Linked DNA regions of Homo sapiens. The protein of the gene in region 1 purifies or fractionates together with the protein of each later gene. This does not show direct contact. Each region holds a gene or a part of one and is shown on either strand. Other genes may lie near its edges.

What was found. Proteins that work in one complex are often made in the same cells at the same time.
Region 2: the proteins of TSPAN2 (region 1) and SNX13 purify together in Homo sapiens (co-immunoprecipitation; 3 studies listed by BioGRID and IntAct, with this or other methods). This does not show direct contact.

What each region holds. Positions count from the first base shown.
Region 1 is NC_000001.11:115,079,476-115,086,503, reverse strand, and holds part of TSPAN2 (tetraspanin-2), read left to right. Parts: intron 1-7,028. UniProt on the Homo sapiens protein: May play a role in signalling in oligodendrocytes in the early stages of their terminal differentiation into myelin-forming glia and may also function in stabilizing the mature sheath.
Region 2 is NC_000007.14:17,888,489-17,895,516, reverse strand, and holds part of SNX13 (sorting nexin-13), read left to right. Parts: intron 1-2,082; coding exon 2,083-2,185; intron 2,186-3,881; coding exon 3,882-3,971; intron 3,972-5,032; coding exon 5,033-5,154; intron 5,155-6,728; exon of another isoform or gene 6,729-6,957; intron 6,958-7,028. UniProt on the Homo sapiens protein: May be involved in several stages of intracellular trafficking. May play a role in endosome homeostasis. Acts as a GAP for Galphas.

The DNA.
Region 1 (7,028 bases):
CCAGAAAAGTTCTCCTTAAGAAGGAGCTATTCGAGCTAAACCTGGAAGGACTGGTAGAATGGAGCTGGGCAAAGCGAGGGGGTGACGCACCATCCACCAGCAGAGGAGCAGAGCAAGGGGGAGTGTGCGCCACCATCTGACTGTCGAAGCCATCAGGCTGGAGTGCAGAGATCCCAAGCAGGGCGTGCCTGCACAAACAGGGTGTACTTGAGCAAGTTATTGTTACTTCTAGGCTTGTTTTCTCATCTGTGCTATTGGAGTAACAGAAATATTGAGAGGATTAAGAGGGAATATATAAAGTATGTGACCTCAACTTCCTATGAGCCTAGGACATAGTAAATGCTCAAAAATATTAATTATTATTTTTGTTATCGGCACATAGGAAGCATTCAATAAATGTTAGCTCTCTTTCTCCTGATTCCTTTCTTGGTGGGGAATAGTATATAAGTTTGCCAAGTGACTTGCCATTTGTCTTCATTTGAGGATAACTACACCTTATCTTGTCAATTTGTACTTGTGGATTTTCCCCACTAGAACTTAAAACACTCTGAGAGCAGGAATTTTGTTTTTTCTGTTTTGCTCATAGCTGTATCCCCAGTGCTAGAATAGTGCCTAGCATATAGAAGGCATGCAGTAGGACATGAAGGACCTTCCTCTCCCCCAGTTTCATGGGGGGTGGGGGTGGAGGCAGCAACTAGAGCGAAGAGGCAACTGAAACAGGCACCTCATGACTTAAGGGAAAGTGTGGGATAAAGTATCTAGATATCTGCCTTCACTGTAACTGAGGGAACCTGATTCCAGAAAAGCCCCACTCAAGTTTCTAAAGTTGTTTTTTTGTGGTTGGAGGGCTTCGTGGGAAGTTTGGGAAAGGGGTGGGGGATAGTTTTCCTAGAAGGCCAGACTTTAGCTGTGACTGAAGTATAAATTTACACACACCCTTAGAAGCTCATGTGCCTGCCCCTCGGAGTTACGGGGTTCCTTGGGTGACAGCACTTCCTTCCAATCAGAACCTCGCCAGAAGTAAGCATAGAGGTGGGACAGGTTCTGTTTGGTGATCTGCGATTTAACAGATCAATTTGCAGCCTCCTCTGGCAGCTTGCTTTAAGTTTCCCTAGGCTGTGCTCCTGGTTTCATAAACATACAACCAGGCCCTGCCAGAGCCAGCACAGTATTCCCTGGCCCAGGGCCGCTGACTGTACTCACCACTGAATTTTTAAAAACAAAATAAAGCCTAGCCATTAACCCCACTACATTAATTTCTCTTATCGTGGTTGATGTCAAATGTGAAACCCCTCCCAACATCTGTCATGTCTAAATTCAGACCTGCGATCAGATAGCACAGCATATTCCTGTGCCTTTCATTGAAATCACCTTTTTTTTTCCTACGTTGCATAGCAATATAAATAAAACACTACACCCCCACCAAGCCGCATATGTTGGCTTAAAGGAAAACCTGGGCGCTGTTTATTCCTTGGTTTATTGTTGTATGGTCAGTGTTTTCCTATCATTGTGCTGCACTAGCTGCTCAGCGTTACTGACCCACAGGAAGCAGAGCTGTTCATTGTTGAAAAGCAGATTCCATATATGGCAAGTCTGAAGTTGCCCTCCTTTCCTTCTCACCATTATTAATACAGCTTTGGGTTTTCACTTGGGGATGCCTAACAGGTACATTTAAGAAAGACAGTGTCTTGCAGGCTTGGGAGTCAAAGAAGTTTGACTCACATGAATCTCATAGAGGTCACCTTCCACTCTTTCCCAAACTTATTTCAAACAGTAACTTCAGAGCAATCACCTGTCAGAGACATTGGTTTAGGAAAAAATACCTAAAGAAAGTATTCTTTGGAGACCAGCCCATAAGGCAGATAGGAATGTTCTCAGCCTCGCTGGAGGAGAATCTTCATTTCTGATTTTTGTCAAGGTGGAAAGAGAGTACCAGGGGCCAGTGTCCCCTAGTGTGGACCTAGAATTGCTAGGAGGAACAGATAGCCTACAAGAGGGGACAGTCTGAAGAAGCCACAGCTATGGTGCCAGGGTTCCGGTAGACCTCGGACAGACCTATGCAGCGTGGCAGTTCAAATCCAGGAATCCAAAACCTGGGCAGTGGATACTGACATCATACTGCCTGACTCTATTCCTGCCTCCACTCTTTACTACCTAGGGGACTTTGGGCAAGTTGTTTAACCTCTTTGAGCCTCCATTTTCTCATCTGTATAATGGACATAATAAACTACTAATATCTGTGAACTTTGTGCACATAAAATGAGTTAATATATGTAAGGTTATAAGTATGGTTCATGCATACAGTAAATAATAACATATCAGTAATAGTTGTTTTTAAATACTAGAAGTACAAATGGGAAAGTAGAATCTAGAATCCAAGAGGTTCATAAAGTCACAACAAAGCAGGCAGGTGTTTTACATCCAGCTAAGCAAGCAAGGTAGCAAGAGGCTTGGAGTTTATCAAGGGCATGGAGTCAAAAGGAGAGATCACTTCCTCCACCGTTCCCTGCCAAGTGCTGGGAATTCAAAGATGATTAAGACACAGCCCTTGATCTTGAGGCACTCATGCCTTTATTTAGCCTCCATTTTGCCTTTGATTAGAATTTATTCCCTGTTTAGTCTTTGCTCCTTGAGGGCAGGGACTGTGTCCTTTTGGCATCCCCTTTCTCCCAATCCCTCAGTACCTAATAGAGTTAAGCATGGCTCCAGCTAAGGTAGTTGTGTGCACTGACCCTGGAGCAGGATCTGTTTATTTCCTTTCCCACTTCTGTGCTACTAAGTGGAGGCCAAGGAAAAGCAATGGGAAAACCTTTGGTGATCAGTGCCTCTCAAACTTTAACGTGCGTACAGATCACATAGGGAGCTTATTCAGCTTTATTCGGATTCAGTGGGTCTGCATTTCTAACAAGCTCCCAGGTGATGCTCGTGTTGCTGGTCTGGGAACATGCTTTGAGAACCCCTGTTTTAGATGTGGCCTGAAGAGGTCAGAGATTCAGCAGTGGCACTTGTTTCTGACTGAAGCAGGGTGTGCCCTGCTTCTTGGCTTACTCACTTGGCTTGTTTTTGGCAGTTCTTTTAATTTCAGTTACCACTTTACCTTTATTAAGTCTCTTTTTTACGCTAATACTTGATGCTTTCTGGAATTACCGGGAGGCCACCTGTCCATTGTTCATTGCATTTCACCTTGTTGTTCTAGAACATCAGCCATGAAGTGTCTTTGGGTCTCCAACCATGTGTGACAAAAGAGAACGTAACCTCTATCCCCCAACCTTGACAGTTAATATCGCGAAGCTGCTCCCTTAAAACAAGTGATGCTATACTGAGCACTGAAACAAATCATGTCATGGTTGCTAAGGAATTAAAGAGAGAATGCTGCCAGCAAGATGGAAATACCAGATGGGCTGGGAGCACATCTTACAGATGAATTAACTCGGGTTACCTTGGCCTGCCTTTTTCATCCTCTTTGAATTTGATTGGGAACAAAAATAACAATGCTTCAGTTTACGAAGTGCTTTCATATGCGTTATCCCACCTGATCATGAATCACAACAATCTCACGAAATAGTGTAATTATTCCCATTTTACAGTTGTGAAAGCTGAAAGTCAGGCACAGTAGGTGGTATGTCCCAGGTCTTCTGACTTTAAACCCCATGCTTTTTTCATTGTTTTAATTTATTGGAACGTGTAGAATATAAGGTATAAGAAATGCTGCTAACTTGGAAAATCTGAAGCCTGTGATCAGGGAGATTATATTCAGTGTCAGATTTAGTCTTGATGCATTCCAGAAACAGGTACAAAGAGATGCCTAAAAATACTAAGGCATATGGGAGAAGAAGCAGGAAGGAGAGAGGTTGGGAACACTGCTGATCAGTTTCAGGCAGAGGAAAAGTAACATGGAAATTGAGAAAGGGTATATATCAAGAGACAGTTTAAAAAGTTAATTTCAGGAGCAAAAACTTGAAGAATAGTAAGCACTATATAAATGTACACTATGTGCCAGCTGCTTTCCTAAGCATTTATTAACTAATTTAATCCTCACAACAACCCTATGAAATAGTAGCAGTTATCATCCCCAGTTTACATATGAGAAAACAGAGGTCTGAAGCATTGAAGAGACTTGAGAGCTGGCCAGTGGCAGAGCTGTGTCTCTATGTGTGTCCCCAGAGTCTGTACTCATAACCACTCCAAGTCTACAGACTATCGGAGAGGAAGGTTGAAGCTCTGACAAACTTGTGAATTCTAGACCTGCACTGTCCAATGCGGCGACTATGCTACTGATCACATGTAGCTATTTAAATTAATTAAAACTAAATAAAATGTAACCTTCATTTTCTCAGTCCCACTAGCTACATTTCAGAGCTCCATAGCCATAGGTGCCTAGTGGCCACAACGCTGGACAGCAGAGATATAGGACATTTACATCATTGGAGAAAGGTCTTCTTGACAGCCCTAGCCTAAATATAGTTATTCTTTCACTCATAAATATATCTATTCATATTTTTCTCTTATGGGGTCTTAAAAACATTAAAGAGAGGAGACATAGTTTCCACAAAAGGCTACTGACTTTCTAGTATAGAAGATTTAGAAAACCGAAAGGAATTCCAGCTGTCATGGAAAGAGGGAGTGTGGATCTAAAATAAAAATTAGTAGAGGACGGCTGCAGCAAACCACATTATTGGAACCATGGGAGCGATGTTTCCTATCTTGAAGATTAAGCTTTTGGTTTGAAGGTAACATTAGCAAGTCTACCAACATAATAGCACAAAGTGTGAGGCACTTACTGTTCTCAGTGTGTAACATGAACTCATTTAGTCTCTTTAGGAGGCACTATTATTACCTTCACTTTGCAGATGAGGAAGCTGGGGTTAGAGAGGTTAAGTGGCTTGCCCAAGATTATAGGACCAGTAAGTGCCAGAGTCTGATTCAAACCCAAATGCGTAGAACCCCCATTTTTATCCACTACAACTCCTTTACACCTACGTACCGTATGCACGCATGTGTTTATTACCCTAAGGGCATCATTATATATTCTGAACACCCAGAAGAGGTGAATTTCTAGAAGAACAGTTGGCAGATATTCCAGGATGTGTACCAAGCTCTGTCCTCCACATCGTAATGGTGATTGGGAAAGAGTCAGCTTATTAACAGGGGTGGCAGAGCAAGGCTGAGCAGGGCCAGGGGTGCATTGGAAGTTGCTGTCACTCATCCAGGAAGCCGACTTTGTCTCCCTGCTCCCGCCAGAGTCTATCTAGCCTTCTGTGAATGGACCAGTGCTGCACCTTCCTGACCTCAAACAGGTCCTGGTAAAATGGCTTTTAAGAAAAATCTCTATAGAGCACCAAGCTAGACTTTCACAATTTCTGCTAGATTCCACCCATGCTAACTTCTTAGTAAACAAATTGTTTTGGCTTTTCTAATCTAGCCTTAGTTCCATTTGAAACATTTTTTTAACCACTGTCATTCTGTAACAACTAAAACTGGATGAAGATCATTATTTATTGATCAATAATTAAGAATTGTTTATCTGCTCCAAAGTAGTTCTCCCAACCACTATAAATAAATATTGTTTAATGTGTTGTCTTTGCTTATGTAAAGCTCTATATAGATGAGATGTCACAGTAGTCATTGTGGCCTCCAAGATAAGTGATTATATATGCAGAGGGCAGGCCTAGGATGAGAGCCAGCTGGATGTTCCAAGGAGGAGGTCCGCTGAACCTAGAAAAGACCATTTTTTTCCTCTCCGGGCTTATCCCCTTGATGAGGTAAGTAAGGCAGACATTGAGTTCAGTTCACTTCTGTGACTTGGTAGACCAGATTTTAGTTCTGTACATATTTGATCTTCATTTGAGAAAGCCATCTGCTCCCTGGAATCCTTAGCCAGTAGTCTATGACATTTCATTTTGCTGTATAGTATAAAGAAGACTACATAGGCTGGGCATGGTGGCTCACACCTGTAATCCCAGCACTTTGGGAGGCTGAGGCAAGAGGATCACTTGTGCCCGGGAGTTCAAGACCAGTCTGGACAACAAAGTAAGGCCCCATCTCTACCAAAAAATAGAAAAAAATAGCTGGATGTGGTTGCACATGCTTGTAGTGGGAGGAGGAGGTGGGAGGATGGATTGAGCCTGGGAGGTCAAGACTGCAGTGAGCTGTGATCAGGCCACTGCACTCCAGCCTGGGCAACAGAGTAAGACCCTATCTCAAAAAAATAAAAAGCAAGAAAACTACACAGCCATCGTCTTTCTCCTAATTCTTGATGTTCCCTAATCTCCTTCTCCTTCTCCCTGTATTGTTAAGAGAAAAGACATTATGTATAATCACCAAATAAACAACACATTTTCCACTGTCTATATGTAAATTATCTGCTCTATCATTTGCAGCAAGCTTTTCATCCCAAGTTAGTTTCCTTCCCCTGAGCTTATATTTCTCCAGCACTTCTAAACTGCCCCCAGCAATGTTGGTTGACCCATGCAAGTTAACTTTATAACAATTTAAACAAACTGAAGGTGCATCTGGCACAAATGTATAGCCCAGTGTTCTTTGCAGAGATGAATGGAACACTCCTGATTTTATTGTGGCCTGAATTGCACCACCCTTCCATCACTGCAGAGAATTAAGCATTGGTCAATTATAAAATATACTCTTACCTGAAGGAAGTTTTTCTTACTGTGAGCTTTTTCTTAGGAAATGGCATGAGGAAAATAATGGGGAGATCAGAAACACTGGTACCTAAAGGAGCTGCCATGCATTTCCAGACTAACACAGCCTTCTCATCGCCACAGGCTGCCACAGTCCTGCCTCTCAGTTCCCACTCACCTGGTCCTGATGAAGGCCAAGGTAGTGAGGTCCTTCGGAGACCATTTGACATAGATGTCATATGGCATTCAATTCTTGTATTTTTTCTGATAAAACCCTTGATTTTGAAGAAATGCCATCTGAATCCTTGACTTGCTTTTACTGCATAACAGAATAAAAATCTTGGGAGCTGGTTTTCCTCTTTGAGAAAATTCAGATCATCTTCCAGAGCA
Region 2 (7,028 bases), on another chromosome or scaffold:
GTTTTTCTAATAAAACTTAAGTTTTTAACTTGCATAGTTTATTCTTGTCAAGTGTTGATAATGTCTATATTTTGCTTATAGTCAAAGTTAACTCCTTATTTTTTAATATAAAGAATGCTTTTGGAAAGAAAAACACTTGGGGATTTTTCGTTTTTGTTGTTGTAGGATACTTTCATCTTACTGCATTATGGTTATTTTGTGGCATTCTGTTGTATTTGTTGGGTTATATAATTAATTTATGGCACCCAACTACAGTTTAAATTATTACTTAAACTTTACAGCTGAAACTACTATTTAGGTTCTTTTAAAATCAGACTGCTCTTTATCTTGTCTTCCTATCGTTACACACTTGTGGGCAAAAATTAATGTCTTATCAGTCTGTTTCTTGATGATGTTTTTAATAACACAGTGTTAATATAAACATTTTATTTTGTCTATAAATATGCTTAATAACCAGGTAAAACTGAAATAGAGGGCCAACTTGAATCTTAATAATAATATCAGATATAACACAGATAGATGACATTTAGCAGTAATTCTGAGACCAGCCTTTTACAAATAACAAAAACAGAATTAATGACTTAAACTGATTTGACTTTATCCATGTTCTCAACCCCCAACCCCTGCTTTTGTGATACTTGTACTGAGGACTAGTGAGAGGGCAGGTAGACACAAAAATTGGAGGACTTTGAGAATCTTCCTTTCAGTAGTTGAGACTGACAATATTTAATGTTTTACTGTTCCCTTCCTGTCATTACAGTCTTTGAATCATTGTAACATTACTATAAGATCATTATTAGATTAAATGTTTTTTGATGGATTTCCAACACTTTGCTTTATTGGTAAATTTAAAATCTATGAAATATTGATAATATTTAGTCAATACTTAGAGTGAAGTAGTTCTAAATCACCATTTATCTTCCTTGATCCTGTAATTATTTTTCAAAATAATTAACTTTTTTTGGGATACATTTATATTTTCTTAATTCCAGCCTTATTTTAAACAAATCATAGATTAGATTTTTTTTTCCCTAAATAGCCTTTATGTATTCTGTATTCATACTGGAAAGTTATAATAATGTAATACCTCACGTGAATTGGTTAACAGAACTATAGAATTCTGTCATTTAGCTACATATTTAGATTCATTTGTCTTTATCCATGGTTATTAGCTAGCCTACTTGTTTAATAAGGGCTGATTTTTCTTTTCTTTTTTTTTTTGAGGCGAGTCTTACTCTGTCGCTAGAGTGCAGTGGCGCGATCTCGGCTCACTGCATCCTCTGCCTCCCCGGTTCAAGCAATTTTCCTACCTCAGCCTCCTGAGTAGCTGGGATTACAGGTGCATGTCACCACACCCAGCTAATTTTTGTGTTTTTAGTAGAGACGGGGTTTCACCATGTTGGTCAGGGTGGTCTCGATCTCCTGACCTCAGATGAGCCACCTGCCTCGGCCTCCCAAGGTGCTGGGATTACAGGTGTGAGCCACTGTGCTCAGCCTGATTTTTTTTTAAGTTTGAAAAATGTCACTTAAGTTTTTTTTTTTTTTTCGAGACAGTCTTGATCTGTCACCCAGGCTCAAGTGCAGTGGCGTGATCTCAGTTCACTGCAATCTCTGCCTCCCAGGTTCCAGCGATTCTCCTGCCTCAGCCTCCCAAGTAGCTGGGACTACAGGTGCAAGCCACCACCCTGGCTAATTTTTGTATTTTTAGTAGAGACGGGGTTTCACCATGTTGGTCAAGCTGGTCTCGAACTCCTGACCTTGTGATCCTCCTGTCTTGGCCTCCCAAAGTGCTGGGATTACAGGCATGAGCCACCACACCTGGCCTTGTCACAAGATTCTTTAGGAAATATATTGGATTAAAACTTTAAAAAGTATTATTGTATAATTCACAAAATGTTCATAGTTGTTTTAAACTTCAGAACCTAATACAATCTGTCAATTTCTTGCTTTGCCAAAGTCACAAATTGACTTTTTAGTAAATGATAAGCCATCTGTGAACTCTGGAAAATATACTTGGTAGTAGATTCATTAAATTATAAGGAAATTTTGTTTTTATATTTGTGATTAAATTTTTCTTTCTAGGGGTTTAGTGGTTACTCTCCTGTTTGGAAAAACAAACTCAGAGAAGTACCTAGAACAGTGTGAACACTCATTTCTTCCTCCAACATCACCTGGGGTTCCTAAGGTAAATCGTTTGAGGGAATATAAAACCTCAAAGTCCAGTTCTTTGCAATGATAATAGAGTAATCATCTGTATATATAGCGTGACAAATTTTCGTATAGTTTACTAATGCTCACTGGGAATTTATGTGAGATTGTCTAATTATACTTAGAAAATATATTTTAAAAGGCCATCTTAAAAACTTTCTTAGTGTTAGATTTAAAAAGTGGGAATACAAACTTGAGAAAACGATAGAAATTGGTTAGTTTATTTTGGGTATTTTTCCTGCTGTCTTATCATAGTATTTCAAAGCATCATGCATATGATTTTTAACAATGTCAATGAGTATTCTGGTTTGAATGAAATAAATTGCAGAGGAATCAGAGGAAAAAATGGATACTTTTCATTACTTTGAAAAATACAGCTTGTAATTAGATTATGCAGTATCTATAATTTTAATAATTCAGGCCTAATTTTTATCATCTTGAATGGTGCTATTATTTTTTCAGTATCATACTCTATAAATAAAATTGGAATTGTGTAAGTTTCAGATTGTAGTGCCTTCAATTCTTGTGCAGTTGGGTTGGTTTCATTTTGTATGAAGAGAGGCAGATGGCCTGGAGTTGATGCTAATAACAACTTTCTTTACAGTTATTAATTTATCTGTTACATGCTAAGGTGCAGGAGATGTAGAAGTAAATAATGTCCAATATTATTTTACATTAATAAAAGAATTTCACTCTATTCCACTGACTTTTATATTGATAAACAAATTTTTTAATACTTAAACTTTTTTATAATCTGAAACCTTTCTCTCCTTTAGGACTCATATTAATATGTATTTTTTTTTTTTTACTTATAAGTCTTAGGAAATTAACCTTTCCTTTTTTGAACCATTTCTTAGCTATTTATAGTGTACTTCATTTGAGTGGCATATACAGAGAATAGGAAATATTTTAAGAATTAAGATCCTTAACAGTAATAAATTATATTCAAGAATGGTTAAGTCTTTATAATCCATTTTTAATAGATAGTATAAAACAATGGGTTTTATTTGCTATTTCTAAAATATGATTTCTAAGTATGTCTTATGAAAAAATATCCGTGGTTTCATATTATAACTTTGAAGCATGTATTTTTAATATAGATATCTATGTCTATATCTGTATCTATGTTTATATATATTTATGGTTTGTTTTTTTAAGAATCTCCCACTACCTTTTCCCCAATTTTCAGGCCACTGATCTTTCTGAACACAAAAAAGTAGAGAAGTACATTTTCTTAAGTTGCCAAAACTATCCCTACATAAAATCCGTTTAAAAATTAATTATTTTGCAGCTGGTATACTGTTTTGGGCTGGGAAAGGGGAGGGGCAAGAGGGAGAGTGTCCAGTAAAGACAGTTTGACTCACATGAAACACTAATTTTATAGTTGTAGAGTTTCATTGAAATATGGCAGCAGCATACCTGTACATTTGCAGTTTTCCCACATTCTAAATAATTTTTGCTGATTAAATTTTTGAGGATAATCATTTTTTTGGGAGTGTCTAATTTTGTTAACTTGAGAAATAGTGTTTGGCTTATAGAGTAGCACCTCAAATAAGGTTATTTATTTACTTGAGGATAATGAAGGGATGTTACATTGAGTATTCAACTGGAATTAAACTGGAGAGATTTTACATCAGAAAACTACTCAGTAAGATATTTTGATTTCCTTTAAGTGCTTAGAAGAAATGAAACGGGAAGCCAGGACTATTAAGATTGATAGAAGATTGACGGGTGCCAATATAATTGATGAACCTCTCCAGCAAGTGAGTTTCAGCGTGTGGTATTTGAATTCTATATATTGTGTTCTAGGTATATTTCTTTTGAAGATACCAGGAAATACTTTTTGCTCTTTAAATAATATCCTGGAATTTCTTAATGTTATCCTTGAATTTTATACTTGAAGATGCTTCCTTATTTATTAACTCACTTCTAATGAGGTGGTTTACTTTATGTAAAAGCCTTTCGATTGAATTTGGATTTAGAAAAAAAGTTGTTATTGACATTTGATAGTGTTTCTTAAAATTTTACAGTTAAAGTGTTACTCTTTCGTTGATGAACAAGCTTAGTGGTGTGGTAAATCAGACTTTTTTTCCTACTTGTTACCTTTTAAAAAATGGAAAAGAAATATCCGATGCAAAAACATTAAAAAATTAGAGATAGGTAAAAAAACTATGCCCCCTGAAATATTTTTCATTGATGTTTGATTATATGATTATAAAAATGTGTACTTTAGAATTTTAACATTTATTATTATTACTAATATTTAGTTTATCTGATTTGTAAAAATTATACATTGAGTTGTATTATGTACTATTTATTGTCTGAATACTGTTGGCAGTATCAAAGGTATTAGTAGAAATAAGTGAACTCCTGTATCATTTTTATAATTAGACTGCAATGGATCTGATGATATAATCTTTAAAAAAACTTTTTTTGTGGAATTATAGTCTCTATTATTTTACATCTCATTCCATTAAACTGATTGATATTATTTATTAGATTATAGCATGGAAAGTTTCTTTTTTTTCTGCAAACCCTGTCTTTACCTGGATTTATGTGGGACTTGGCCATAGATAGTGTTTTATTTTATTTTTTTTTTTAAATCTAGGCAGTAGGTAAGTTGGGATACCAGAATAATTTAAAAATGTTTGAAATGGTTTTTAGTATGTTGATGTTTTTGTAATGAGGGCAGGTATTTACCACCATAAATTAATACGTAGAGAGTAAATATAAATTGGTAGATACAGCATACTTTTTTAGTTTACCACTGTAACTTTTTAAATCCTAAAATGTTGTAATTTTTTTTCCAATATTTTTGTTATAGGTTATCCAGTTTTCCTTGAGGGATTATGTCCAGTATTGGTATTATACACTAAGCGATGATGAATCTTTTCTTCTTGAAATTAGGCAGACTCTTCAAAACGCACTCATTCAGTTTGCTACTAGGTAAGGACACGACATTGTATTTATGCAGAAAAATTTAGATGTATGGTTTGTACCAGTAAGGAAAACAACTTTTAAGGGGAGGAATTGTTTATTAAAAGGTAAGTAGAACAGCAGATTATTACTGTGGGATAACTCCAAGATTTTACAACTAGAGCTCTTAAAACCTTTAAATTACCCCAGATTTTAGGTTTTTACAGAATGTTATTTTGATTAAGCCCTGCTTTCTAAGTCTGTTTGGTAGTTTTTTCTTTAGGGTCCAAATCAGGTGACTTTTCAAATCTGTTACCCCACTTATTGCTACTTCCCCCCTCCCCCTTCCCTAGACCCTCTGTTTTATGTGAGTGCTATGAAAATAGATTAGTTTCAGTGTAACTGCTCTTCTCCACATAGTTTTGCTGTAACCCTTCTCCTAATTATGACACATATCTATTGGAAGTCCTCTTGGACGAGAAGGGACCAAAGGAACATAAGTCAGTGGAAAATATTCAAGTTTATATTTTTCAGAAAAGAAGTATATTTTGGTGAGTTTGTTTTAACAAACTTTTTTTGTCAGATATACTAAAATTCTTACTTTACAAACCAGCTATATACTGCTTCCCATATGATGAAAGTGTTTTGACTTCTATTCTTGTACTTAAACTGCTTGATTTTTTTTGATGGGAGGCTATTTCACACCTGTTTAAATTATGTTTACTTTCATTTTTATTTTTGAAGGCTTTTTTTCCCCTCCATCCTTGATGTCTAACTTTTTGAAAGCCTTTTAATGGGCAACGTTATGTGAAAGGGAATACTTGTGTTCTAGAAATTATTTATTTTTGAAAGAAAGATTTTATGTTTGGATGAGTTTGTAGATTTTTTTTTTTTATTCCATTAAAATATGTTGCTACCATCACACGCAAAGATTGCCCTGCTAGGTATTTCCAGCCATGCTGCCCTCTCAGGCCCTTTCCTCTATCTCCATTGATTATAAAGCTTTAGATTTGGAGTTGGCTAGAGGAAGGGCATTGGATGTGTTTCCCAACCTCATTGGGGAGCCTGGCACAAGTTTTATGATTTGAACAATAATTGTTACAGAGATAGATTTGTACTCCTCATCCCTCGTGATTAGGAGCAAGAATTTACAAAGTAGCCAGCCAGAATTACAGATGCAGACTCACTGTGGAACACAGAACATATAATTGGTATAATCAAAGAAAGTCAGAATTTGAATTTAATCTCTTTTATTTCATATGCACCATTATTGAGTGTTAGGTATTCTTTCAGATAACTCTTCTAAATATTTTTTATTGCTTTCTATAGCAACACTATCCTGATGACTTTTTTTTTCTTTGAAAGGGTGAGAATAGGAAGAATTCATTATTCTTGTGCCTGACTATTGAAAAATATATAAAAATGTGTAACACATTTTAGACCTGGGAAGAGATTTGAACTAGTAATCTGAAAACTTGAGTTTGCATTCTAGCTCCACCTCTAGCTATGGGACTGTGAGCAAGTGTCTTTAAACTCTGAACCTTGGTTTTTCTCATATGTAAAATAAGTGTAATAATAACTGCCCTGTTCTGTGTTCCTCTCAGGATAATTGTCAGGATCAAAATTCATCTTATTCAACTAATATTTTGGGCATACTTTGTACCAACCAGATGCTGGGGATACAGCAGTGAATAAAACAAAGTCCCTGCTCAGTGGAGTGAAATGAAATACCTGTGACAGTGTTTTGAAAATTGTGAAGGAATTTAGAAATTTAAGTTTTTATGCCATCCAACACCCATAATTTTACTGATGAGGAAGCTAAGGTCCAGAAAGGTAAAGTGGTTAGTCTAATGTTATCTAGTGAGTTAGAATCAAATTGTTCTTAAGTTTGGTATTTTTTCTCC